Homo sapiens: one gene and its partners. The protein of the gene in region 1 purifies or fractionates together with the protein of each later gene. This does not show direct contact. Each region holds a gene or a part of one and is shown on either strand. Other genes may lie near its edges. The genes, in order: FLCN, CREB3L2, RAB33B, PIP4K2C, RAB10, RAB12 and AGAP1.

Evidence for each region.
Region 2: the proteins of FLCN (region 1) and CREB3L2 purify together in Homo sapiens (co-immunoprecipitation; one large-scale study listed by IntAct). This does not show direct contact.
Region 3: the proteins of FLCN (region 1) and RAB33B purify together in Homo sapiens (affinity purification with mass spectrometry, with the first as the bait; one study listed by BioGRID). This does not show direct contact.
Region 4: the proteins of FLCN (region 1) and PIP4K2C purify together in Homo sapiens (affinity purification with mass spectrometry, with the first as the bait; one study listed by BioGRID). This does not show direct contact.
Region 5: the proteins of FLCN (region 1) and RAB10 purify together in Homo sapiens (affinity purification with mass spectrometry, with the first as the bait; one study listed by BioGRID). This does not show direct contact.
Region 6: the proteins of FLCN (region 1) and RAB12 purify together in Homo sapiens (affinity purification with mass spectrometry, with the first as the bait; one study listed by BioGRID). This does not show direct contact.
Region 7: the proteins of FLCN (region 1) and AGAP1 purify together in Homo sapiens (affinity purification with mass spectrometry; 2 studies listed by BioGRID and IntAct, with this or other methods). This does not show direct contact.

The regions. Positions count from the first base shown.
Region 1 is NC_000017.11:17,216,669-17,220,168, forward strand, and holds part of FLCN (folliculin), read right to left. Parts: exon of another isoform or gene 2,899-3,500; intron 2,542-2,898; coding exon 2,351-2,541; intron 515-2,350; coding exon 401-514; intron 1-400. UniProt on the Homo sapiens protein: Multi-functional protein, involved in both the cellular response to amino acid availability and in the regulation of glycolysis.
Region 2 is NC_000007.14:137,999,287-138,003,376, reverse strand, and holds the start of CREB3L2 (cyclic AMP-responsive element-binding protein 3-like protein 2), read left to right. Parts: upstream 1-1,290; 5' UTR 1,291-1,671; coding exon 1,672-1,773; intron 1,774-4,090. UniProt on the Homo sapiens protein: Transcription factor involved in unfolded protein response (UPR).
Region 3 is NC_000004.12:139,457,121-139,460,620, reverse strand, and holds part of RAB33B (ras-related protein Rab-33B), read right to left. Parts: intron 1-3,500. UniProt on the Homo sapiens protein: The small GTPases Rab are key regulators of intracellular membrane trafficking, from the formation of transport vesicles to their fusion with membranes.
Region 4 is NC_000012.12:57,594,192-57,597,691, reverse strand, and holds part of PIP4K2C (phosphatidylinositol 5-phosphate 4-kinase type-2 gamma), read right to left. Parts: intron 2,567-3,500; coding exon 2,470-2,566; intron 1,805-2,469; coding exon 1,661-1,804; intron 1-1,660. UniProt on the Homo sapiens protein: Phosphatidylinositol 5-phosphate 4-kinase with low enzymatic activity. May be a GTP sensor, has higher GTP-dependent kinase activity than ATP-dependent kinase activity. PIP4Ks negatively regulate insulin signaling through a catalytic-independent mechanism.
Region 5 is NC_000002.12:26,110,584-26,114,083, reverse strand, and holds part of RAB10 (ras-related protein Rab-10), read right to left. Parts: intron 1-3,500. UniProt on the Homo sapiens protein: The small GTPases Rab are key regulators of intracellular membrane trafficking, from the formation of transport vesicles to their fusion with membranes.
Region 6 is NC_000018.10:8,636,660-8,639,883, reverse strand, and holds the end of RAB12 (ras-related protein Rab-12), read right to left. Parts: intron 1,736-3,224; coding exon 1,622-1,735; 3' UTR 501-1,621; downstream 1-500. UniProt on the Homo sapiens protein: The small GTPases Rab are key regulators of intracellular membrane trafficking, from the formation of transport vesicles to their fusion with membranes.
Region 7 is NC_000002.12:235,492,545-235,496,842, reverse strand, and holds the start of AGAP1 (arf-GAP with GTPase, ANK repeat and PH domain-containing protein 1), read right to left. Parts: upstream 2,801-4,298; 5' UTR 2,157-2,800; coding exon 1,994-2,156; intron 1-1,993. UniProt on the Homo sapiens protein: GTPase-activating protein for ARF1 and, to a lesser extent, ARF5. Directly and specifically regulates the adapter protein 3 (AP-3)-dependent trafficking of proteins in the endosomal-lysosomal system.

The DNA of each region.
Region 1 (3,500 bases):
AGGGTCCTCCACCACCAGGTCCCTAACTCTTGTCTGGACCGCCAGTCACACACCAGCTTGTACCGCCCCTCGCTCTGTGGTGTTAACTCATATTAATGTTTGCCTGCACAGATGTTTGTCTCCTACCGCATCCCACAAAGAAGCTTTTACCAAGACTGTGTCATATGCATTTTTGTTCCCTCTCAGGCCTGGGCAGTCAGCAGGCACACGCATCCTTCTGATGATTTAAACATCATCAGACCAGACCCGGGTCTCCGTGCCCACTGCGCCCCCAGTGGAGACCGTGTGGTGCACAGCGGTTCTGTGCTGGGCAGTCGGTGCACCTTGGCATCCCCACCTGACGCCAGGCACCAGGCCAATACTGCCCTGCGCCGCACACCTAAGGAAAAGATGTTCTCACCCGAAGTACTTCAAAAGCTGACTGGACGAGGTCCACGTCTCTGCTTTTCCAGATCACCTGGTTCCCCATGAGAACGTGCCAGGCCAGCATGCGGAAAGAAGGGGCACCCAGGACCTAAACAAGAGAGTGCAGTGCTTTCAGCGTGACTAGTAGAAATGGTTTTTCTCTCCCTTCCCATGAAGTTATTTGTGTGTTCATAAAACTTTGTAGAGCAAAGACAGGGCTCAGGAGAAAGACACTTATCTTCTCAGGGAGGCGGGTGCCCGGCCCAGGGTTAAAGGGGCAGAGAGAGAAGTTCCAGGTTTGCACATAAATGCTAGATTCCAAAGCTCTTGCTCCAAGATCTTTCTCCCAGTTTTGTTTTTAAAAATTTGAAGCAAAAAGATGTTAACTTTGTGCAATATTCACCTTCTCTCTACAGACACTTTCTGCTGAACCATTTGAAAGCAAGCTGTAGGGCCCTCGACATGGCAGCACCCAGGAGAATAAGGGCATCTCCACAGCTGAGACCATGACTGCAGCCAGGAGTGCCTGGACGGACGCATCTGACATCCAGCCGTGTGCACAAGCCCAGGGCTGCTGCCTGCTTGACGGCTGCTGTTCTTTGGATCCAGGAGATACTACAGGACCCATCATGGCTTTTAGTTGTCACGTCCTTATTCTTTAACCTAGAACAGCCTCTCCCCACACCCCACCTGTTATTAACTTCCATGACATTGACACCTTAGGAGAGTCCAGCCTGCTGTCTCACGGCTTCTAAGAAGCCAAACCCAGCTTTGAAACACAACATAAGAGAGAGGCCACAATACTATGTCTCACCAAACCCCAACAGCCTCAAAGTAGTCCCACCTCCAGAGGAATTCCAGACCCCTTCCAACCTTCATCAACATAAGCAACGGACAAGGAAGGTTTCAGCCAAATGCAGGATTTTGATGGAATGGGTGTTTACATCCAGAAGCCCCAAGGACATCTGCCATGAAATCAGTCTCACTCCATTTTCAAAAACAAATAACTCTCTTCTAATGAATCAGTGCTCATTGGAAAAATTCATGCAGAAGAATTTTATAAGAAGGCAGCCTGCCCTTGTAATCCAGCAACCCACACCCCTCTCTCCCGGCATCTGACTCGATGTAACTGGAGACAACACTGTTAGATTTTGTCGTGTCTGGCAGGCACACATGTACATACATCACCCTGAACACACAGTGCCTGCTTTATTTCTTCTAATTAATCATATTCCATGGTTTGGCTACTGTTTACTAGTATGGTTTGATATGCAAGTTGTTCCTAATTTTTTGTAAGAATGACCATCACTTTCTTTTTTTTTTTTTTTTTGAGATGGAGTCTCGCTCTGTCACCAGTCTGGAGTGCAGTGGTGCCATCTTGGCTCACTGTTAACCTCCACCTCCCAGGTTCAAGCGATTCTCCTGCCTCAGCCTCCAAGTAGCTGGGACTACAGGCACATGCCACCATGCCCAGCTAATTTTTGTATTAATAGAGATGGGGTTTCACCATGTTGGCCAGGCTGGTCTCGAACTCCTGACCTCGTGATCCGCTCCCCCTTGGCCTCCCAAAGTGCTGGGATTACAGGTGAGAGCCACCACGCCCAGCCAGACCATCACTTACAATGGGCAGGGTCCAGGCTGCATCCAAACCAATTACAGTGCTGTTCAATGCCTTTAGGAGCTTCTTAGAGGATTAGAGGACCATGGGATGCCAACTATCTGGGCTTTTCTTTGAAGATACTTAGGTCATCACTGAAAGGGGAGCACTGATCCTATGGCTAATACCCCCAACGCCCTGTGCCCTCAGCCACCCACCGAGGAGGCTGTCAGTCACTTCCTGCAGGGTTTTGAAGGTGGAGGGTCCAGAGGCAAGGCGTGTGGGCAGGGACAGCCCATGACTGGCTCTCCTCCTGAGCTCCTGATGCGCTGTGCCCCTGCCGCCTACCTGCCTCATGTGCCGGAGGGACTTGAAGACTGGCAGCTTCCGGGGCTGCCAGCTCCCACAGCCTGAGAGAGAGGAGGACTCTGCCGGGCCCTGGGTCAGCTCCCGCCCTTCTGTACTCTCTGGCAACACAGGGGCTTTCTCCTCCTCTTCAGCCTCAGAGTTGTCCCAGCTTTCTGATTCCTCTTCTAAATCTGCAAGACAGATGACAAGGACAGTTACAGATACAAACAGTCTCATCCTGTGACTTCAGCCCAAGATACTTCATGGGCTGAGCCGGTCAGTGTAGATTCCTGGCTGCGGCCAGGTCCTATGCTCCCTGCTCCCTGTTGCTCTGGGAGCCCTGGGGTGGGAGGGAGGGCTCAGTTGCTGTCTACTTAGCCCGGGGTACCACACATCTCTCTTAGAAGCACTTATGGAAAGACCGTCAGCTGTTCTCTGCTGGTGAGAAAACTCAAATCAGTAAGAAAAATGCCAACAGCGTGTCTACGGAACACACCCAGTCGGCCACAGTTCTCGAGGATCTACACGTTGTTTCTTTTTTTTCCACTTTTTTTTTTTTTTTTTTTTTTGAGACGGAGTCTCACTCTGTCGCACAGGCTGGAGTGCAGTGGCGCAATCTCGGCTCACTGCAACCTCCGCCTCCTGGGTTCAAGCGATTCTTCTGCCCCAGCCTCCCAAGTAGCTGGGACTACAGGCACCTGCCACCATGTCCGGCTAACTTTTTTTGGTATTTTTAGTAGAGACGGGGTTTCACCGTTATCTGCCAGGCTGGTCTCAAACTCCTGACCTCATGATCCCCCGACCTCGGCCTCCCGGTCCACTTTTGTTTTAGCTTGAGGGCGTACGTGTGCGGCTTTGTTACAAGGGTATGCTGCGTGGTGCTAAAGTTTGGGCTTCTATGAATCCTGTCACCCAGACAGTGAACCACAGGAAGTAATATGCCCAGATAGTATCCAATAGAAAGCATTTCAGCCCTTCCTCCCCTTCCTCCCTCCCTCCCTCCTTCTGGAGCCCCCAGTGTCTACTATTCCCATCTTTTTTATTTGAGACAGTGTCTCGCTCTGTTGCCCAGGCTGGAATGCAGTGGCACGATCACGGCTTACTGCAGCCTCAATCTTCTGGGCTCAAGTGATCCTCCCAACGAAGCCTT
Region 2 (4,090 bases), on another chromosome or scaffold:
TAGGACCAGACAAATGCAATAGTTTATATGATAAACTGCTGCTTTAAAGACAACATAGAGTTCAAAGACATTTGTCTCCACCCGCCAAAAAATACTTGCCAAGGAAACAACACAATAGCTAATACCTGAATGTGCCATTGTAAGAAACTTCTAGAGCTAACTGGCAAAGACCTGCTTTTATATTTAAGATAGGTAAACTATATTTTTGGAATTAAAAAGGAGGAAGAAGAATCACAGTGTTCGGGGGAATTCCTTTAGAACAGGCCATCTCTTCCCTATTCTAGGAGGCAGGCCTGGTGCTCTGGCCCTGGCTCACCTTTCTGGCCTTTCCCACCCCTCCCTGCCAAGCACCTCTGCTGCAGCCACACTGGCCTCCCCAGCAATCACGTGAATACCAGCTTCCCCCGAAATCTCATTTCCTTTAGGAAGAACTTCCCTGATCAGCACGTAAAATAGCATCGATCTTGACGCATCCTGTTTTCCTGCTTTTATTTTTCTTTATAGCAATTTCCACTTTCTGAATTTAAATGTTTATTTCTTTGTTTATTGCCTGACTCCTCTGAGATAAAAGCTCTATGAATTCAAGGACTGGGCTCACTTCTGTAGGACCTGGAAAAGCATGCCATTGACTCTTATCAAGCAGATGAAAGAAAAACATACAATAAGTGAAGTCCATAAAAAATAGAAGAACCCAACAGAAAATGGGCGAAAAAGGTGAAGAACAATGACAATTTCCTAGAGCTGCACTAATATAAATGTATGTGCATGAGGAATATTTGTATTTTTGTATAATATGTAATCCATTAAAAAAATTCCGAGAGATTCAAATGAACTAAAGTACTCGAAAATGTTTAAGCCCCCCGCGCAACAACTCTCGCGCCCCCTGTCGGCGCGCTGGTAAATTTCTGAGGATTCTCAGCAAGAGGACTGAACTCACCCTCCCTCTTTTACAAAATGTATTCTTGTCGCTATTTCATTGGCTGTACCTTTCAGACGCCCCTTTCACATTAGTCAAGCCTCCAGTCCATCACTTCCGGACCCAAGCCCTCTATTGGTCAGCTGTAGGCGACAGCAGACAGCGGGCCGCGCTCAAGCAGGAGGAGTTCCTCGGTGACGTCACAGACACTCCCCGGCTACATTCCAAGGCGTGGGCGGAGACTTCCCGCGGCCTCTGCCTTTGGGGGCGGGACAAAGCCGAGAATGAGACTTCTGATTGGGTCTGCTAGGCAAGGCGGATATCCAATTGGTCAAGCCTTGGAGGGAGGTGGGGCCGCAGCTGGGTCCTGGAGCAGAGCCGAGGAGCCCTGGGGTCCCTCAAAGTTTGTGTCTGGAGCCGTAGCGGCAAGTGGGCTTGCGGCTAAGGGATTTTCCTGGGATGAGAGCGGGTCTTCTGCCTTCATTTTGGATGCACATCCCGCTTTAGCCCCGGCAGCCTTTGGTCCGGCTCGTGTCCCTGGGGATTCTCGGATCTCCGAGGACACCGGACGGGAGCGCTTGGCCATCCTCTCTCCGGCAGAGGAGCAGACGTTTGCTTTCCAAGTGCAAAACTACAGACACGCGCGCGCACACACGCAAGCACACGCGGAGAGAGAGGAACCTTGCCGGTCCGAGGCAGCTCTGCGCGTCCCCTCCTGCGCTTAGCATCCTCGGCCCAGCGCGGCCCGCACCGCCATGGAGGTGCTGGAGAGCGGGGAGCAGGGCGTGCTGCAGTGGGACCGCAAGCTGAGCGAGCTGTCAGAGCCCGGGGACGGCGAGGCCCTCATGTACCACACGGTGAGGACCCGGCGGGCGGGGCAGGAGGGCTTTCAAAGCGGGCAAGTGTTGTCACGCGAGGAGCAGCTGGAGTCCTGGGACCCGGGAAGGCAGGGTTTGGGGCAGGGCATGGTCAGAATCAAGAGGTCCTGGGCGAGGTGTACTTTAATGTCTGAGCAGATGAAGGCGGGCAGCTGGCCCCTTTACATTTCTCATGAGAGTAATGCCACTTTGTATTCCTTTAACAATTCATGCTTTTTTCCCTGAGGCTTTTTCCATCTGTAATATCATTTGCTGTTGTTAACAGTACTGTAATGCGGGAGAGGGAGTGTGTGTTTTGAGAATAACATGCCTCCGCCTAGTTTGCTATTGATTTTTTTTTGAGGTTTTCAAAAACTGGACAAGATTAAGTAGCATTTCCTTTTCATCTGTCTCGTATTCTCTCTCCCTCTCTCCCTCCCTTCCTCTTCTTTCATATTTATATTTTAAAAAGTACACGTGTGTGTGTGTGTGTGTGTGTGTGTGTGTGTGTGTGTGTGTGTTGAAAGGGCTCCTCTACGTTAGGGAGAAAGGCGGCTTTATTTGCTTTCTTAAACTGTACGACCAAGAAGTCTCCTTCCTCCCTCTTCGGAGGAAAAACCAGCAGAGGAGTATGGAAAATCTGAGACAGTTGCATATTTAAGAAAGGCTCTGGGGAAGGTGGGACAGCTCACCAGTTGCTTGTTCAGTCTTATACTAATGCCTCAGAGATCTCTTGGGGGATTAAGCTGTCCCAGAGCACGCACATTTCTTTTAAAGTTTTTAATGTCAAGTTTTTGGTATTAAGTTTGCAAAATGAAATTTTGTTTTCAATAGCCAGCACTGATCATAGGACTTTATGCAAGATCTCTTTGTTTGATTCTTATCCATGCAGACGTTTGTAATGGGGGTGGGGCTGGGGTGAGGGGGGACACTAATGAGAAAACCACTGGAGGCTTGGCTGCTTCCCCTTCACGCTTTTTTAATGGGGTCAGTACCAAGATATTTGAAACTTTCGCAAAATGGCCTGCAGGCTCCACCTCTTTGGCCTTTGACTCTGGCTGACGTTATTTTGAGACAAGGAATGAGGGCCTCCCTGCTGATTCCCACCGAAGTATTTGTGGTGGCTGAGAGTGGCTTGTTTAAAAAAAATGCAGAGTGCAGGGCTGAGAGGGAGTGGTAGTTCATGCTGGGGCAAAAGCCAGATGTTCAGTGTGATCTTCTGGGCTTTGCTTGCTGAGCTTGTCATGGGGACACTATGTGGGCAGCACGGAGGTTGGGGTACCAGATGTGCTTCCTGTCCTCAGTAAAGAACTTGGAGTATGTTGTTCCTCAAATATCTTTTGATGAATGGGTGCTCCAGGAGTTTCTACTGACAGGCTACATTTTATCCATATGCAGAGGGGCAGCCCTTCTCTTTTGTTCTTGAAGTATTCTTTCGCTGTGACAGTGTCTCATCCAGCAGCTGCAATGCCACAGCTAGGGGGTTGTCTTTCAGCTGGTGGGATGAATTACGCACAGGCATCTACCTTGCTGTTCTTTGGCCCTGTAGCTTGCATTTGTGAGTTCACAGGGAAAGGTGCGAGATGCTACCCGTGACTGTGGCATTCACTCTGGGAAGAACTGCTTGGACTGGCTCTAACTAACACCTTATGCACACTTTCAGGGAGTAGAGGCCTTACATTTGCTTTGATATTAACAGCCCAGTTTTTCTGTCATTGTGATAAAGCAGGAATGTGTGATTATTTTTCTTTTATTTCTATTTTTAAAAAATGCTTATTATGTCCTCCACTTAGGTACATGTCTGTTGTGAACAGCTCATTCCTGTAAAATGCTGCTCATCATTGCTGCAAGTCAGTGCAACAAACTGTGCATATGAATTACTGTTGAAAGAGGTATTGGTTTAGCAGCACAAATGATTGGGTTATATTTCTCTCAAACTAAGGGACGTTTGGGAGAGGTGGGGAGATAATTTTCCCATCTGTTTCCTGAACTCTGTTAGATATCCAGGGGCAGAGCTGTTTGTTACTCTAGCTGAATCTTTATGTAGAAAAAGGATGGCCTGATTATTCATTCAGTCAGAGAGATATTTGTTCTTTCGATTAATATTTGTGGAATATATAAAGCACTTGGAAACATGAGTGAACAGAAGCAGACAAAATCCCTGACTTCTAGAAGCTTATATTCGTGTGTGTGTGTGTGTGTGTGTGTGTGTGTGTGTGTGTGTAGGGGAACATAAACAATAAACATTATAAAGAAGTGATTATGTTGGATGAAATAAGTGTTATGGAAAACGTATAAGTAGAACAAGGTGAGGGGG
Region 3 (3,500 bases), on another chromosome or scaffold:
AACCACCAATACCACATTTTAAGAAATAAAGTATCAATTTGATTCTGTTTTAAGGTAGGGTATAAGGTGACTTCATATAAAATATTTTTTGACTTATAAACATTAATTTACTTTTAATGAAGATCAACACAGAACAATAATTAGTAACCCAATTTATATTTTATATTTACACAGCATTCACTGAATGTCATCTTCATCATGCCATAAAAAAATTTAACAAAATTTCTACTATTCTCTCTAGGCATGTTAGCTACATTTTGTTCTATCCGTGCTTCCAAACTTCAACTTCATGTGCATAATTATTTCTCCTGTGTGCCAATCCGGTATTTGTAGCTGCCAATCAGTATTTCCATTTGAATATAGGATCATCTCAATAAACACATGACTAAATCATAATGTTACAGAGCCTGTCCAAATTCAATCTTCCACGTAGTCCCCCTTAGCTCCACTACCTACCTCCTGTCACCCAGACTCACAACCTCACTCATCTAGTCCTCTTCTTTCTCATCACCAACAGCCAGTTACTGAAGACTTTGGCTTTATCTTCAAAATACCTCTTCTATCACCCCTTTATTTTCCCTTATCACCTCAATTCTGGATTTCCAGAGTACCCTACCAACTGATCTCTCTGCCTCTATATATTCAACACTTTTCCCTGAGTACTTACTATGTGGTTTAAGAACTGAACTAGGCCGGACACGGTGGCTCACGCCTGTAATCCCAGCGCTTTGGGAGGCCGAGGCGGCAGATCACGAGGTCAGGAGTTTGAGACCAGCCTGGCCAACATGGTGAAACCCCGTCTCTACTAAAATACAAAAAATTAGCGGGGTGGGGTGGCAGGCGCCTGTAATCCCAGCTACTTGGGACGCTGAGGCAGGAGAATTGCTTGAAACCTGAAGGCGGAGGTTGCAGTGAGCTGAGACCATGCCACTGCACTCCAGCCTGGGCAACAGAGCAAGACTTTGTCTCAAAAGAAAAAAAAAAAAAAAGAACTGAACTAGACACTGAAAGAAGTCTATGGAATTACCAGACATGGATCCTGCCCTGAATAAAACTTAGTAAGGGAGGTAAGACAGGTATGTATGCAATGAGATAGAAATCATCTAAAGGTTCAGGTAAGGTGCTAAAAGAGTTCATAGAAGGAAGCTGACTGGAGGTGTGAGGAGACTCTTTTTTTGTTTTTAAGAGACAGGGTCTCATTCTCTTGCCCAGGCTGGAGAGCAATGGTGTGATCATGGCTTACTAGAGCCTCCAACTCCTGGGCTCAAGCAATCCTCCTGCCTTACCTCCTGAGCAGCGGGGACTGCAGGTACATGCCACCGTACTTGGCTGATTTTTTTAAATTTTTGGTAAAGATGGGGCTTCACTATGTTGCCCAGGCTGGTCTTGAATTCCTGGGCTCAAGTGATCTTTGGCCTCCCAAAGTGCCGGGATTACAGGTGTGAGTCACTGGAATCTGGCTGGCTGGAAGGTTTTTTTTTTTTTTTTTTGAGATGGGATTTGTTCTTAATAGAAACAACCCCATTAAGAAGAGGGCAAAGGACATGAACAGACACATTTCAAAAGAAGATATATCTGTGGCCAAAAAGCATATGAAAAAATGCTCAACATCACTAATCATGAGAGAAATGTAAATCAAAACCACAATGAGATACTATCTCACACCAGTCAGAAGGGCTATTATTAAAAAGTCAAAAAATAACATATGCTGGCAAAGTTGCAGAGAAAAGACAACACTTATACACTGCTGGTGGGAGTGTAAATTAGTTCATCCCTTGTGGAAAGTGGTGTGATTCCTCAAAGAGCTAAAAACAGAATTATCATTTGCTCCAGCAATCCCATTATTGGGTATACACTCAAAGGAACATAAATCATTCTGTCATAAAGACATCTACACATGTATGTTCATGACAGCACTATTTACAATAGCAAAGACATGGAATCAGCCTAAATGCCCATCAATGGTAGACAGGATAAAGACAATGTGGTATATACATACCATGTAACACTATGCAGCCACAAAAAGAACAAGATCATGTCCTTTGCAGCAACATGGAGCCGGAGGCTATTATCCTAAGCAAACTAATGCAGGAACAGAAAACCAAATACCGCACGGACACAAAGACAGGAACAACACACACTGGAGCCTCCTGAAGGGTGGAAGGTGGGAGGTGGAAGATCAGAAAAAATACCTATTGGGTACTATGCTTAATATGTGGGTGACAAAATATGTGGGTGACAAAATAATCTGTACACCAAACCCCTGTGACATGTTTAACTATACAATAAACCTGCACATGTACCCCTGAACCTAAAATAAACGTGTTAAAAAAAAAAGAGAGAGAGACAGAGACAGGGTCTGGCTCTGCTGGAGTGGCTCGATCATAGTGCTCTGTACCCTTGAACCTCCAGCAATGCTCCCACCTCAGCCTCAGGAGTAGCTGGGACTACAGGCACAAGCCACAACACCCAGCTGGAACTTTATAACATAATGGAGAATATAATATAAAGGGCACTTGAGTTAGGGGAGATAAATCTTGAAGTACAACATTAATCGGGCATTTTGGCAACAATGTACAAAATAGATTAATTGAGGACTGGGAGATCAGTTAAGCTGCTGTAACTGTTAAGCTGCTGCAACAGTTCAAAGAGAGGTTAAAAAAAGGACTTGAACTAGAATTTTGAAGACAAGACAGTTAATAGAAAGTGTGCAGGTGGAAAACCAATTGGACTCAGAGCAAAGAGAGGGGTGAGAGTACAAGGATAAGAAGGATTAAAGTAGTACAACCTAGGTGAATTTTGAATTTCATATGATTTTCATGTCATGAAATCTTGATATTTTCCCTAAACATTAAAAAATGTAAAAAATCATTCTTAGATTGTGGCCATGTAAAAACAGGCAAAAGACCATTTTTGGCCCTCAAGCATAGTTTGCTGACCCTTGTGCCGTATCATAATTCTCTGTGCTTATCAAAATGTCTTCTTTCCAGCAATTACTCATTAAATATTTGTTTTACCAGTGTGGGGAGAGGTCCTGATTATTTTCCTTTAGTTAATATTAACATTTTGCACTTAACATGGGAACATTTCATTTCTACCGCTACAAAAAAGTAAGCTACTAAAATGTTCAAGTAGGACCTGCTGACCTCTAATGGGAGGCCGGATTAAATACAACACCAGGCTTTAATGGGTTGGTGTGTCTGCCACTGGAAAATGATTGTGCTAAAGGAATACAATTAGTCATGAAGGGGATATACACACGAGGAAGGAGCATAAGGATTAGAGTTAGGAGTCTCAATTTAAAAGCCGAATGTATTTGTATTTAAGGAATTTAATTTTATAATTTTATTCGACTTCCAAAATTTTGCAAACAAGATTTTCCTCTTTCAACTACCTGCACATACTGCTTAGGAATGGATTAGCAGATATAGGCTTTCTTAAATTTCATAAAACATTTTAACGGATTCTGAAAGGGCACTGTTGTTAAGTCATGCTTTCTG
Region 4 (3,500 bases), on another chromosome or scaffold:
GGCTCATTTCTTCACTTGTTCCTTTAGGTTCTGTCCTCAACCTTCTTTTCATTTCACTGCACACAACCTCCCTACAATAATCGTATCTATAGCCATGGTTTTAATGATCACTTACTCACATATAATTCTCAAACCTATACTCCCAGTCTAATCCTCTTTCCTGAATTCTGTACACATACCCCAACCACTTACTGGACATCCTCATCTGGATGAATTGCAGAAACCTCAAATTCAGTATGTCCAAATCAGAACTTTCTTCCTCCAAAAACCTGTTCCTCTGTTTCTAATTTCTGGTGAATAGGCACCCAGTTATCCCTAACCAGGAACTTGGAGGCCCCTGTGTCTTAACTCTCAGTTCTCCCATAGGTCTTCCTTTCTATCCCCACCACCATCGCTCCCCCAGGCCTTCATTGTTTCTACCCTGGACTATTAAAATTACCTCCTAACTGGTATCCACCCTTCCAGTGTTCCCTCCCACCAATCCATTCTCTAAAACGCTGTCACATTTTCTAAATATTTCTAAATAACAAATATATCACGCCCCTTGCAAAACCACCTTCAGGATAAAGTCCAAACTTCTTTGTGGGGCTTATAAGCCTCTTTACAATCTGGCTCCTGCCTATTTCCACAGTACTACATCCCATCCAAATGGAATTTCTTGCTGTTTTCTAACACCAAGTTCTCTCATGGCTCTGTGCCTTACAAGTGCTGTTTTCCTTTGCCTAGAATGCTCTTCCACCCTGTCCAATGGTTAACCTCTACTAGTCCTTCAAGGATCAACTCTTACAGTATCTCCTCTAAAAAACTCTCTTTAGCCTCCCAGGTGCATTTCCTTCCCCAGGTGAGTTCGGATGCTCTTCACTAGCTTCAGAATATTCTGTACAGACTTCTACTATTGTATATATCTTGCGGTGTGCTAATACTGGGTCACTGGTCACTGCCATCAGACCAAGGGATCTGTAAGGGCCACAGATGTTTCATTTACCTCCTACTCTACTGCCTAACATAGGGCCTAATAAGAGGTATTCAATATTTGTTGCATAAACCAAAGACTCCTTTTGGACTCTGATGTATTCCTTGCTCACTGATTTTGGTGAAATTTTTCTTCAGTAGAGATGTTCAAGAAGAGTGTTTTTACTGCCAAAACATTCCATAAACTCCACATTCCAAGTAAATCTTTTTTTTTTTAATCTTTTTTTTTTTTTTTAGGCGGAGTTTTGCTCTTGTTGCCCAGGCTGAAGTGCAAATGCACGATCTCGGCTCACTACAACCTCCGCTTCCCGGGTTCAAGTGATTCTCCTGCGTTAGCCTCCTGAGCAGCTGGGATTACAGGCATGAGCCATCATGCCCAGCTAATTTTGTACTTTTAGTAGAGACGGGGTTTCTCCATGTTGGTCAGACTGGTCTCGAACTCCCGACCTCAGGTGATCCTCCCGCCTCAGCCTCCCAAAGTGCTGGGACTACAGGTGTGAGCCACTGCCCCCAGCCTGTAAATCTTATCAGACAGAATAGCTTCCCTCATCCCATTTAGGGCTGGATATGATTATGGATTCTCTCTTCCAATGAGTTTTCTCCCCAGTTGGCATCTATTACTGACAATAGCTGAGCTATATGTGAGTAGGGAGGAGAGGGAAAGAATGGGGCTAGAGAGAGGCCTGACCTGGTGATAGTTGGAGAGGTTGCTATGCATGTCAGCAATGTCCTCACTGGATACTTCTTTGATGACCAGAGTCCGATCGTAGGAGATAAGGAAGCGACCATCACTGCCTTCACTTTCGCTGGGGGGGTTTCGGGTAAGGGACACCTGGGGACACAGAATAGGCCAGAGCTCTTTTCCTCCCTCTTTATATGCAGAAACAAGTCATAGGAAAATGGTCAGCTGAAAGTGGATGAATCCCTGGGGTAGGAGATTCAGCACAGTTCCTCATCAGGTGTCCATATGTGGACTGAAGGAAACTGAATGCAAAATTCTTTTTTTTTTTTTTTTTTGACAAGGAGTCTCGCTCTGTCACCCAGGCTGGAGTGTAGTGGTACGATCTCAGCTCATTGCAACCTTCGCCTCCCAAGTTCAGGTGATTCTCCTGCCTCAGCCTCCCAAGTAGCGGGGACTAGACGTGCGCCACCACACCTGGCTAATTTTCATATCTTTAGTAGAGACAGGGTTTTGCCATGTTGGCCAGGATGGTCTCGAACTCCTGACCTCAGGTGATCTGCCCGCCTCGGCCTCCCAAAGTGTTGGGATTACAGGCGTGAGCCACAGCGCCTGGCCAAAATTCTTAATGTATCTACATCTTTTCCCCCAAGGACAAGGTTTATAATTTTCATTAAATTTTTGAAAATGCTGCAATCACAAAAAGGTAAAGAATTATATTTGCCAAGACTCTCATTTCTCCAAATATGGCTGTCCCAAATAGTACTCCTCAGTTGCTGGGGAGAAAGGGCTACCCTCACCCCTTAATGGACTCTCACCAAGTAATCTTGGTCATCAATGCCAAATCGATCACGGAGGTTCCTGAAGACCTGGGGACAATACTCCTTGAACTTGAAATGACTGGGCAGATTTTCCCTGAAATTCAGGTTTTCAAAGTAAGAAAACAAACAATATTACATTTACATACACTTGGTAGTTTATAAAGTACCTTCAGACATATTACCTCATTTGATTCTCATAAAACCCTGTGAGGTCCTTTTTTTTTAATTTTTATTTGTTATTATTATTTTTTGAGACAGAGTCTCACTCTGTTGCCAGGTTGGACTGCAGTGGTGCAATCTCGGCTCACCACAACCTCCATCCCCCGGGTTCAAGCAATTCTCCTGCCTCAGCCTCCCAAGTAGCTGGGACTACAGGCATGCGCCACCATGCCTGGCTAATTTTTTGTATTTTTAGTAGAGATAGGGTTTTGCCATGTTTGCAGGCTGGTCTCGAACTCCTGACCTCAAGTGATCCACCCGCCTTGGCCTCCCAAACTGCTGGGATTACAGGCATGAGCCACCACGCCTGGCCCTTGTGAGGTCCTATAAAAACATATTATTTCCATTTTATAGAAGAGGAGACTGTCTCAGAGTGATTCAGTGACCTGCCTAAGTAACATGGTTGGTAAGTGGTATAGTAGAGCCAGGATCTACTACCCATCCAAACAGCAGCATTTCCCAAATCTCAAGCAAGTCAGAAGCATTCTAAAGTCAGCAACAGACACCACTGTTTTGAATGGCATCTTCTTTTCCTAGGAGGGCTTAGTAGAGAATTCAAGTTTTTCTTTCAAGGAGTCCCTGTCAGAAGCTAATGGTTCTCATGGCATCTCCAAGGTCACAAGCAGAAAAAGAGAGAAAGAGCAGGTAATGGTATCTGTACATATTTACTCTATGGAATTGCCAGGCTAGAGGAGAGATAACACTGATTCATATAAGGATATAGGGAACACCAGAAATTATTCTCATGGTTTCCTTGCACAAAACTAATTTCTGCATTTGGGAAGGATGTTAAATTTTCAACTCACTGA
Region 5 (3,500 bases), on another chromosome or scaffold:
ATTTCTTTCAACAATATTTTGTGGTTTTCTGTGTTCAAGTCTTACACTCTTTTGGTTAAATTTACTCCTAAGTATTTTTTGCCTTTTGATATTATTACAAATGGAAATTTATTCTCAATGTAATTTTTAGGTTATTGCTAGTGTACAGAAATAAAGCTGATTTTTATATGTTGATCTCATTTCTTGTAACCTTGCTGAACTTGTTTATTAGTTCTAAGAGTTTTCTGGGTATATGTTTGTGGGTTCTTAAGGATTTTCTATATAAAATATTCTACCATTTATAAATAGTTGTTTCACTCTGGATGGCTTTTTTTCTTTCTTTCTTTTTTTTTTTTTTTTTAGCTCTGGCTGGAACTCAGCATAATGTTGAACAGAAGTGGCCAGAGTAGATATTCTTGCCATGCTCTTGATCTTAGGGGACAGGTACAATAATAGCTGTGGTATTTTTATAGATGTCACTTACAGGATTAAGGAAGTTCTTTGCTATTCCTAGTTTGTTGACTTTTTTTTGAGACAGAGTCTTGCTCTGTCGCCCAGGCTGGAGCACAATGGCACGATCTTGGCTTACTGCAACCTCCACCTCCTGGGCTCAAGCGATTCTCCTGCCTCAGCCTCCCGAGTAGCTGGGGTTACAGGTGTTTGCCATCACACCTGGCTGATTTTTGTATTTTTAGTAGAGACGAGGTTTCACCATGTTGGCCAGGCTGGTCTCGAACTCCTGACCTCAGGTGATCCACTTGCCTCGGCCTCCCAAAGTGCTGGGATTTACGGGTGTGAGCCACTGCGTTTGGCTGACTGTTTTAATCATAAAAGAATGTTGGATTTTGTCAAATGTTTTTTCTGTGTGAACTGAGATAACTGTATGGTTTTGTCGTCTATTAATATGGTGTATTACATTGACAGGTTCTGACCCTTGCATTCCTGGGTAAGTTCCTCTTGATCATGTTATATAATCCTTTAATACACCAGAGAAACAAGATTTCCTCTTTCTTTCTTTTTGAGACGGAGTTGCACTCTGCTGCCCAGGATGGAGTGCAGTGGTGCAATCTTGGCTCACTGCAACCTCCTCCGCCTCCTGGGTTCAAGTGATTCTCCTGCCTTGGCCTCCTGAGTAGCTGAGACTACAGGTGCCCACCATCATGCCCGGCTAATTTTTTGTGTTTTTCATAGAGACAGGGTTTCACCATGTCGACCAGACTGGTTTCAAACTCCTGACCTCAGGTGATCCGCCTGCCTCAGCCTCCCAAAGTGCTGGGATTACAGGCATGAGCCACTGCGCCTGGCCAAGATTTTCTTTTTAAATAACTTCTTTTCTTTTTCAGAGACAGAGTCTCACTCTGTCACCCAGGCTGAAGCACAGTGGTATGATAATAGCTCACTGCAGCCTTGAATTCTTGGGCTCAAGCAATCTTTCTGCCTCAGCCTCCCAAGTAACTGGGACCACAGGTGTACACCACCACACCCACAATTTTCCTTTTTGATACCTGGGTTGTATGTTTCTCAGTTTATCTTGGGAAACAAACCATCCAGTCTACCATGTCAGATGTTTAAGTCTGCGGTATAATAAAAACATATATTAGGTCTTTGTTCCCAGTTCCTGTCACTGACCTCCCAATTTCCTGAGTGACAGGGTTGTCTTTTGTTATTCATAACAAGATTCTTTTGACTATAATGAGTTTATGCTAATGAGGTGACTGATGACAAGGCTCCTATCTAGCTTCAGAATGGGGGCTGGTCTCCAGAGGAACCAACCAAGTGATAAGAGGATTGGAAATTTCAGTCCCACTTCCTGACCTCCTAGGAGGGGAAGGGAGACAGACATTACACTCAATCACCAGAAGTCAATGATTTAATCAATTATGCCTAAGTGATGGAACTTCAATTCAAAAATCTGAAAAACTGAGGGTAAGGAATATTCCAATTCGGTGAACACATCAAGGTGCTGGGAGAGGTGGCGTATCCAGAGAGGGGATGGAAGCTCTGGAGCCCTGCCGCTACTCCCCACATATGCCTCTCTTCCATTTGGCTGTTCCTGAATTGTATACTTTATAATGAAACTGTAATCCCAAGTATAGCATTTTCCTAAGTTCTATGACTCACCCTAGCAAATGATCACATGGAGTGGCATTGTTGGCATCCCCAAAATCTATAGCCAGCTTGGACAGAAGGCAGAAATGTGGGTAAGCCTGGGGACCCAGGACTTGCAAATGGCATCTCAAGTGAGGGCAATTTTGTAGGAATGAGTCCTTAAACTTGTGGAGTCTGATACTAATTCAGGGTAGTCAGTGTCAGAATAGCATTGAATAGCAGGACACCAGTTCATGTGGTAGAATCAGAGAATTGGTGGTTGTTGGAAACACACTGCAGAATCTCTAAACTGCTCTTACTACAGACTACTTACCTGAACAATAAAATAAAGAATAAGGAAATCAAAATAAAGCTTTTTTGTTTTAAGATTTGTATTTTTTTTTTTTTTTGAGATGGAGTTTCGCTCTTGTTGCCCAGGCTGGAGTACAATGGTGCGTGATCTCAGCTCACTGCAACCTCCACCCCCTGGGTTCAAGCGATTCTCCTGCCTCAGCCTCCCAAGTAGCTGGGATTACAGGCATGTGCCACCCCACCCAGCTAAGTTTGTATTTTTAGTAGAGACGGGGTTTCTCCATGTTGGTCAGGCTGGTCTCGAACTCCTGACCTCAGGTGATCCGCCCACCTCGGCCTCCCAGAGTGCTGGGATTACAGGCGTGAGCCACCGCGCCCAGCCAAGATCTGTGTATCTTTAAATAATTATTAAAAAATAATAAGCTTCTCCCAAAGATTTATTGTAGCAACAAAACAGTGGTAATGAGCCCTTAGGATTGCTACCATTAGGGGTATTATCTTGGGTCTAATATTGGTTTAAGACTTGGTCTTTGTGTATCTGGCCAAAATTTGCTTCAAAGAGTTACTGTTAACAAAACTCAAAGCCTAGAAGGTAGCAATAAGGCATGAAAAACAACTCTTAACAAGAAGCCACCTATGCTGTAGCAAAGAAACAGACATGCTTTGATACATAATTTTAACTTATAAAAAGTAACATCAGGCTGGGTGCAGTGGCTCATGCCTGCAATCCTAGCACTTCAGGAGGCCAAGGTGGGCAGATCACTTGAGGCCAGAAGTTCAAGACCAGCCTGGCCAACATGGCGAGACCCCATCTCTACTACAAATACAAAAATTAGCCGGGTGTGGTGGTGCACACCTGTAATTCCAGCTACTCAAGACACTAAGACACTAGAATCACTTGAACCCAGAAAGCAGAGATTGCAGTGAGCCAAGATTGTGCCACTGCACTCCAGCCTGGGTGATGAAGTGAGACTCTATCTCAAAAAAACCCAAAATACAGAAAAAAAAACAACATTTTCACATGCAATGGAACTATTTTCTTAGTTAGGTTTTTACTATATTAGTATTCCATATATTTCAAAATGCCTAGAAGCAATATTATATTTCTATAACATGAAAAA
Region 6 (3,224 bases), on another chromosome or scaffold:
TCTCTATGAATCTGGGTGCTCCATATACCTCATGTAAGTGGAATCAGGCAGTATCAGTCCTTCTGGGCCTGCTTATTTCACTCAGCGTAATGTCTTCAAGATTCATCCGCGCTGCACATGTGACAGCATTTCCTTTCTTTTTAAGGATGAATATCCCATTGTTTGTAGAACACACATTTTGTTTATCCATTATTTTGCTGATGGACATTGGGGCGGTTTCCACCTTTCGGCTCTCGTGAACAATGCTGCCGTGGGCACTGGTGTACAAGTACCTGTTTGAGTCTCTGCTTTCGATCTTTTAGATATAAACCTAGAAGTCAAATTGCTGGATCATATGGTAGCTCTATGTTCAGCCCTTTGAGAAAACATCAAACTCTTTTCCCCAGTGGAGGACTATGCTTTTCCTGTCTAAACACTCAAAAGGATTAAGCTGTGGAGCTCATGGAGAATACTGTCATATATACAATTTATAATTGGATAAATAAATATGGCAACTCAACTTCATTCATAAATACAAAATTTTATTTGCACTTCATTAGTGTAGAAAGACCACAATGCTTTTCATACCACAACACTCAAGACACACCAAGTTATTCAAATACATAATTACTTAATTACCTTGACTAAACAAAACAGTGCAGTTTAATAAAAGATATACCAAAGATAGAGTTCACAAATTCATCATCAGACCAAAAAAAAAAAAAAAAAAAAAAAAAAAAAAAAAAAAAAAAAAAAAGAACACAGTCTAGGCTTAATCAGAATAAGCTTCACCGTAAAGAAGGGGGAAGTTTTATCATTACAAAGGTACAGAGTGTTTAGGCAAATACACGTATGTTCTTTGATATAGTAAAATGCATCTCTTTAAAATTCCTTTAAACAGGATTTGTTTAGGACAGCAGCGTGTTTTAAAATCTTTTTCTATAGTTTCAAAAACATTTCTTTCTTTATTGAATCTTTGTAGTTCTTAAAAGCATAAAGGTACATCCCTTAGGAAGCCATGAGAGAGATTCTGTGGCCTTAGGACCAAGTCAAATCCAACCCTCTAACTAGTAATATTCTACCATTATGTAACATTAATAAATAACCTTCCATGACGGCCATGAATGGAGCTTTGCTTCGTGGCAGAAACACTCCAATACTTCAGATGCTACCACTGGGGGAAATGTCTTGTAAATAAAGAAAAAGCACTTAAGATAGCTTTTTTTCAAAAAGTCTTTAGTTTTACAAATTTTCTTTAAAACGGTAAGCAAAGCACCACGTTCTCTCTTATCAGAATATCTTCTGTCCTCATAATATAATTAATAAGGACAATTATATTATTTATTTCAAGAAACATTATACCTTTCATTTCTCCCATTCTTCATATTAGAAGTACTAGGTTTCCCAGTGTATGTACACTAGACACTGGGGTAATGAATGAAATATAATAATTTGGAGGGAAATAGGTAACTTATAACCAAAACTTACCCAGGATTGCATATATGCATATTTACAAGTTAGTGTATAGCTCTGACTTGGATTACAAAGTGCGAAAGGAAATTGTCAAAATGATTGTAGTGCAGAATAGAACGTTTTTTCCCCTTTCCAGGAATCATTTCCACTTTGTCTCCAAAGTAGGAAATCAACAGCATCGGACATGTGGTCTTGGTGGAGGCAGTTCTGGCGGTATCTCAGGCTCTGGTTGTAACGACAGGATACTATTGGACAACTCATTCCTTAAAATATCCAGAGGCATCTAACGTATAAACAAACAAAAAAAAATCCGTTTTAACTTTACAAGGTACACATACAGCTGACCCTTGAACATGAGTTTCAACTGCACAGGTCCACTTATACACAGCTGCTTTTCAATACAAGTTTCACCTGCCTCTCCTGCCTCCCCACTCACCTTCTCCTCCGCCTCTGCCACCCGGAAGAGACAGCAAGACCAATCCCTCCTCCTCCTCCTCCTCCTCAGCCTACTCAATGTGAAGATGACACAGATGAAGACCTTTATGATGATCCACTTCCACTAATGAATAGTAAATATATTTTCTCTTCCTTATGATTTTCTTAATAACATTTTCTTTTCTCTAGCTTACTTTAAGAACATGGTATAAAATACGTATAACATACAACCTATGTGTTAAGTGACTGTTTATGTTATCAGTAAGGCTTCCAGTCAGTGATAGGCTTTTAGTCGTTAAGTTTTTAGGGAGTCAAGTTATACTCAGATTTCTGACTGTTTAGGGGGTCAGCACCTCTAGCCCCCTTGTTGTTCAAGGGTCAACTGTAAATGCTTTCCAAATTATACAATTATATAAAAAAAAGTATTATTATTGAAAGTCCTCCGATCGTTAAAGATCAATTAGACATTAAAATATTAAGCCAAAAAAAGCCATGTTCAAGACACTTCATATCACAACATGAACAATGCCCAGCCTGCTTAATACCCTATGGTAGAAGAGAACAGATCAACCTCATAAACATATATTTTCACAGAACCAGGCAAAATAAAAATACATTAATAAATTTTAAAAATGGTCTGCATTCCAAGGAGTTGCATACTTACTAAAGACAGACATAACCTACCTTGGCAATTATATAAACTTTTTTTTTTTTTTTTAAATAGAGACAGTGTCTCATTCTGTCACCCAGGCTGGAGTGTAGATACGATCATAGCTCACTGTATCAAATTCCTCAAATTCCTGGGCTCAAGCAATCCTCCTGCATCAGCCTGGGTAGCTGGGATTACTACAACCAGGTACATGCCACTACACCTTGCTAATTTTTAAATTTTTTTTGTAGAGATGGGGCTTCACTGTGTTGCCCAGTCTGGTCTTGAACTCCTGGCCTCAAGTGATCCTCCCACCTTGACTTTCCAAAGTGCTGGGATTATAGGTGTGAGCTACCACACCCAGCCTAAACAATTACTTTATTAGAAGCTTCTGAATTATGTATGAACTGAGCAAATTTCACTTAATAACATAAACTTCAGTTCTTATTAACAATTTTTGAATGTAAGCCTAAAGATGCCTGAAGAAACTGCTGCTGCTCAATGAAGCTGTCTAGCAATTTTCTTGCAACTCAGCATCATGGAAAGGTCTCTGTAAGGAAGTGGCTCCCACCAGGGAGCAGAACAGGAAGGGATGCAAGCGCAGCACCACGGGGCTCTCTTTTCCGCTAAGACACCTGCAGACTTGGCTAGGTCTCCAACTGAATTCTCACAGAAAAACGGGGGTGGG
Region 7 (4,298 bases), on another chromosome or scaffold:
GCCTAAAATCTCAAATCGCAAAGGTAGGCATCGTGCTGTCAAAAAAAACCATCATCTAGGAACGACGCATTTTTTTTTTCTTTTAAGGGAGAAAGGAAAATGCAACCACATCCTCTTGCTAGAAAGTCAAACTGCTTTGCTGGAAGTGCTTGAGCCCCAGAGCTCAGCTTCAAGAATGGGAAATAAAAACGAGGTGTTGTGAACCCCACTCAGCCAGAGGTCTTCATGCAGCAAAAGAGGCTCTCAGCCAGGTGCCTTCAATACCTGACGCCGGCTTTCACAGTGTTTCATCAGACTTCTGTGGATGCAGCCAGAGAGCCAGGAAGAACCATCTGAAATGAGCACCGTGCAGCCTTCACAGCTCCCGTAACAGACGCAGAGCTGGAGCTCTGGAGGAACCTTGCTGCAACACCACCTGATCATCAGCAGATGGGTCCAGGTCCCACCGCCACTCATCACGAGTCATGCAGAGGCAGACAGAGCCCATCTCTTGAGGAATCCACAGAGCATCTTAAGTCACCAACAAGGCAGCCAGGTGACCTCATGGGAGACAGATACACACAAAGGGCTAGGACCCCATAAGGCTGGAGCTCCACCCGGATCCTCCCCTGGAATTAACAAGTCCCCCAAGGGTATAGTCTGCCAGTCATCCAGCCTGGCTGGGACATGGTTCAAGTCTACAGGGCTGCCAAATGCCAAGGGCTCAGCAACACAACATCCACTTTCTCCACCTAACTGGCCAAGTTTCAAACCAAAGCACTTCGGGGTTAGTAGTTCAGACTACATAGTGCCAAGGCAAAGCCTCTCTGTGGGCTGATACCCTCTCCCTCACAGAGGGAGGAGGCTGGGCAACGCCAGCACCAGGCTTTCAGGCACATTCCTGCCGGCTTTGGGCCATTCTCAATGTTCCTCAATAGAGGTCTTACCGGCCAGTCTGTATTATGGACAAGCCACTCTGCAGGCTTTTTACCATCACTGGCCAACAGCGCTGAGAAGGGAGAAAGTGCTGATCAACTGTGGCTAAGATATGACTCCACACTGTCCACGCACATGCCACCTGGTGCCCCAGGTGAGTCTTGGCCGGACCAAAGGGATGAAGCAAGAAAATAAATCAGCAGCCTGGAAACAGAGAAATGAGAGCCACCAGAAATCCAGAGGGCACAGCCCCGGAAGGCAGACTGCTGCTGTAGCTCTCCTGGAAGGCCATGGCCCTGCCTGACATGCAGAGGGAAGCGGGTGGGGATTCTGCCCAAGCATCCTGCCCCTCTTAAAACCACAGCACCCTCCACTTCAGTGGCCTCCAACTGCAGACATATGAAAGCGAGACCCTTCCGCTGGAGGACGCCCTGCCCTCCTGGTAGGGTTCTTCCTCTAATCCAACCCCGGACTTTTGGTTGGTACAAAGCACACTACCGGTTCCAGCGTTTGCACAGGGGCACCTGGACACGATGCTCCCGCGGCTAGGGCTGGCTCTCGGCATCCACTAAGTTCAACTGCACCCCTGAATTAAGCAAACACACTAAGGAGGGCAGCCCTGCACCGCCCAAACACGCCGGCCCGGGCCTCGCCCCCAGCGGCAGCACTTCTCAGAACACGTCTTCAACGTCCAGCAAGACGCCCAGGCCTGGCCTGGTAACCTGTCAGGGGTCGGGTGGCGCCGACCCCGCCGGCTGCCCCCAGGCGTCTGCTGGGCCGGGACGCTCCGGCAGCCCAGGACGCGGAGGCACCGAGCCACTTTCCCGCAGGAGAGACTCTATTGTCCACGATCAAATTAACGCTGACGATCTATCTTCCTGGCGGAGCTCGCGGCGCGGCGGGGCGCAGGCGACGCTCGCCCGGCCTTGCAAGACAAGCAGCGCCGCAGTGCTCCCTCGGCGGAGCAGCCGCGTGCCCCGGCCGGCGTGTGTGGACACCCGCACGCACACAGCGCACACCCCCGCCGCGCCGCGGGCGTCCGTGCCTTCCCGAGGCCCCAAGGCGGCCCGGCCCTCACCTTCGATGGCGATGACGTGCTCCCGGATCTGGTTCTGCAGCACCGGCTCCTCCACGCGCTCCAGCAGCTCGTAGATGGAGTAGATGTTGGGGTGGACCGACTCGAAGCGCTGGATCTCGGCCCGGATGGCAGCCGAGTTGGCCAGCTGCTGCTGGTAGTTCATGGTGCAGGCGCCGCGCCCGGAGCCGCGCGCCCCCCGCCGCCGCCGCCCCGCGCCCCGGGGCCCGCGGGCCGCCGAGCCCGGGGCGCCGCAGCCCCCGGGGAGCCGGGCCCGCCGGCGGCGGGCGGAGGAGGCGCGAGAAGAAAGGCGCGGGCGGAGCAGGCGCGGGGCTGGCCCGCGGGCTCAGTTCATGGCCGGGACGCGCGGCCGGCGAGCGAGCGGGCCCCGGCGTCCCGGGTCAGCGGGCCGCCCGGGGGGAGCGCGCCCCCATGGAGCGCGCCGCGGCGGGTGCGGCCGGCCCCGAAGGAGGCTTGCTCGGGTGACTTCCTGAGCCGCAGCCGCCTTCCAGCCCTAGGCGCTGCTCCGCGGAGCAGCCATTAAAGCCCAGGCAGCCGCCGCGCTCCGAGCGCCGGGGCCGAGGGCCGACCCCTGGGCAGTGTGGCCGCGCTGCTCTGGGCTCCTGGCCGTGGCGTGGGTCCGCGCGCTGCGTACTGCGCCGCCCGGCGCGCCGGGGCCCCCGCGCGAGCCCGCCGTGCGCCGCCCGCCGACCTGGGACCGAGTCGCAGGCGCCTTGCAAGCCGCGGAGCCCGCTCCGAGCGCCGCCCGCCGCCTGCCCGGCCGGCCCCCTCCCTGGCACGCAGGGCTCCGGCCCACGTCGGCCCCGCCCCCGCCTTCGCCCTCGCCCGCGCCCGCGCCCGCGCCCCGCCTGCCCGCGCGCTTGCCGCCCTCCGGCCGCCGGCGCTGCGTCCTCCTCGGCGCTTCCCAGCGCGCCGGATCCCGGGGAATTGCGCCAGGCCCCGCCCCGCGCCTGCCTCTGGGCTTCCTGGGACTTGTAGTCCGCGCCCCCGGCGGGCCGGGCCAGGGGGGTGCGCGGGGTGTTCACACTGGGCCGGGGTGCGGGACCCTCCCGCCGGCCAGGCCCCGCGCCTGCCAGCTCCTGCCCGGGTTCTCGCGGCGGCCCCCGCGCCCCGGCACGGGGGAGGCTGCCCGGGAGTTCGCCCGCCGCGTTGTTGTTTGTTTCCAAGCGGCTGGCTCCAGGAGCCTCTGCGACTCGCCAGTGTCCCACGGCCTCGCTTGGTTGGCGAGCCTCCCCTTCCCGCGTTTGGTAACTTTCTGCCTCCTTTCTCAAAGTAGCACACGTGCTTTCCCTTAATACATGCGATTTCTTTCCAAAGGCGAAGCGCCTCCTGAGCCCATGCGGCGTGGGGGTCCACACTCCACGAGTGGACTGAAGTTTAGACAGGGGTGCGAGATGCGACAAAATACCACAGAGGCTTTCGAGGCATCCTTCTCCCTTACAATTTTTAAAAATCGAGCCGTGGATCTCAAGCTGCTGCCTCCTGAGCGCCGCTGCCTGCTCCACGGGGTTCCTTAGCCCCTGGACCGTCTGTCCCACCGCAATCCCCGATTTAGGTCATCCCCGGGGACCCCCCGCGGAGCTGGGACCGCACTGCAGCAGCGCTTGGAAGGCTCGTCTCGCCGCTTTGAGGCAAATGGGACCCTTCAGATTTGCGGAAGCACTGGCTGCCGGGCGGTCCCACAAGGTCCTGGATTGAGGACACTGGCTGAGTCCCTGCCCCCAGCCATCGGCGTGGTCTTTCTGAAACTCAGCCAGCCGGGCCGGCATCCCCGTTTAAAGCCTGCTGAGCCTTCACCGGCTCACATGCAGTTTGCTATGGCCTAAGCACCCTGGTATCCAGCCGTGTTGGCTTACTGGCTGGGCTCCACAACTTCCCAAAGATGTGCTGACATTTTTACCATTCCGGACCTGCTTGTCTTCTCCTTGACACTTAGGCACAGGTCATCACTCCATGCCTCGGGCTGTCCACGCATAAGTAACTCTAGTAACCAAGAGGCAGGCATGTGGCCTCACCAAACCTGACCTATCAGCAGCAGCTGATCACTTGCGCTCCTGGAAACCCCTTCTCCCAGTGCTCACCAGGGCTTCCTGCTGTGTTTCTGGCTTCACTGTCCCTTTTGTGGTTTTCTTCTACTCCCCTAACCTCTAAATATGGAGGGCCCCAGGGCTTATGGTTAGGCCTCTTTTCTTTGCTATTTGCTGTGATCGCCCCTGTCTTATGGCTTTGAATATCATACACAGGTTAATGAAGCTCATATGTATCTCCAGCTGTGACCTCACCCCTG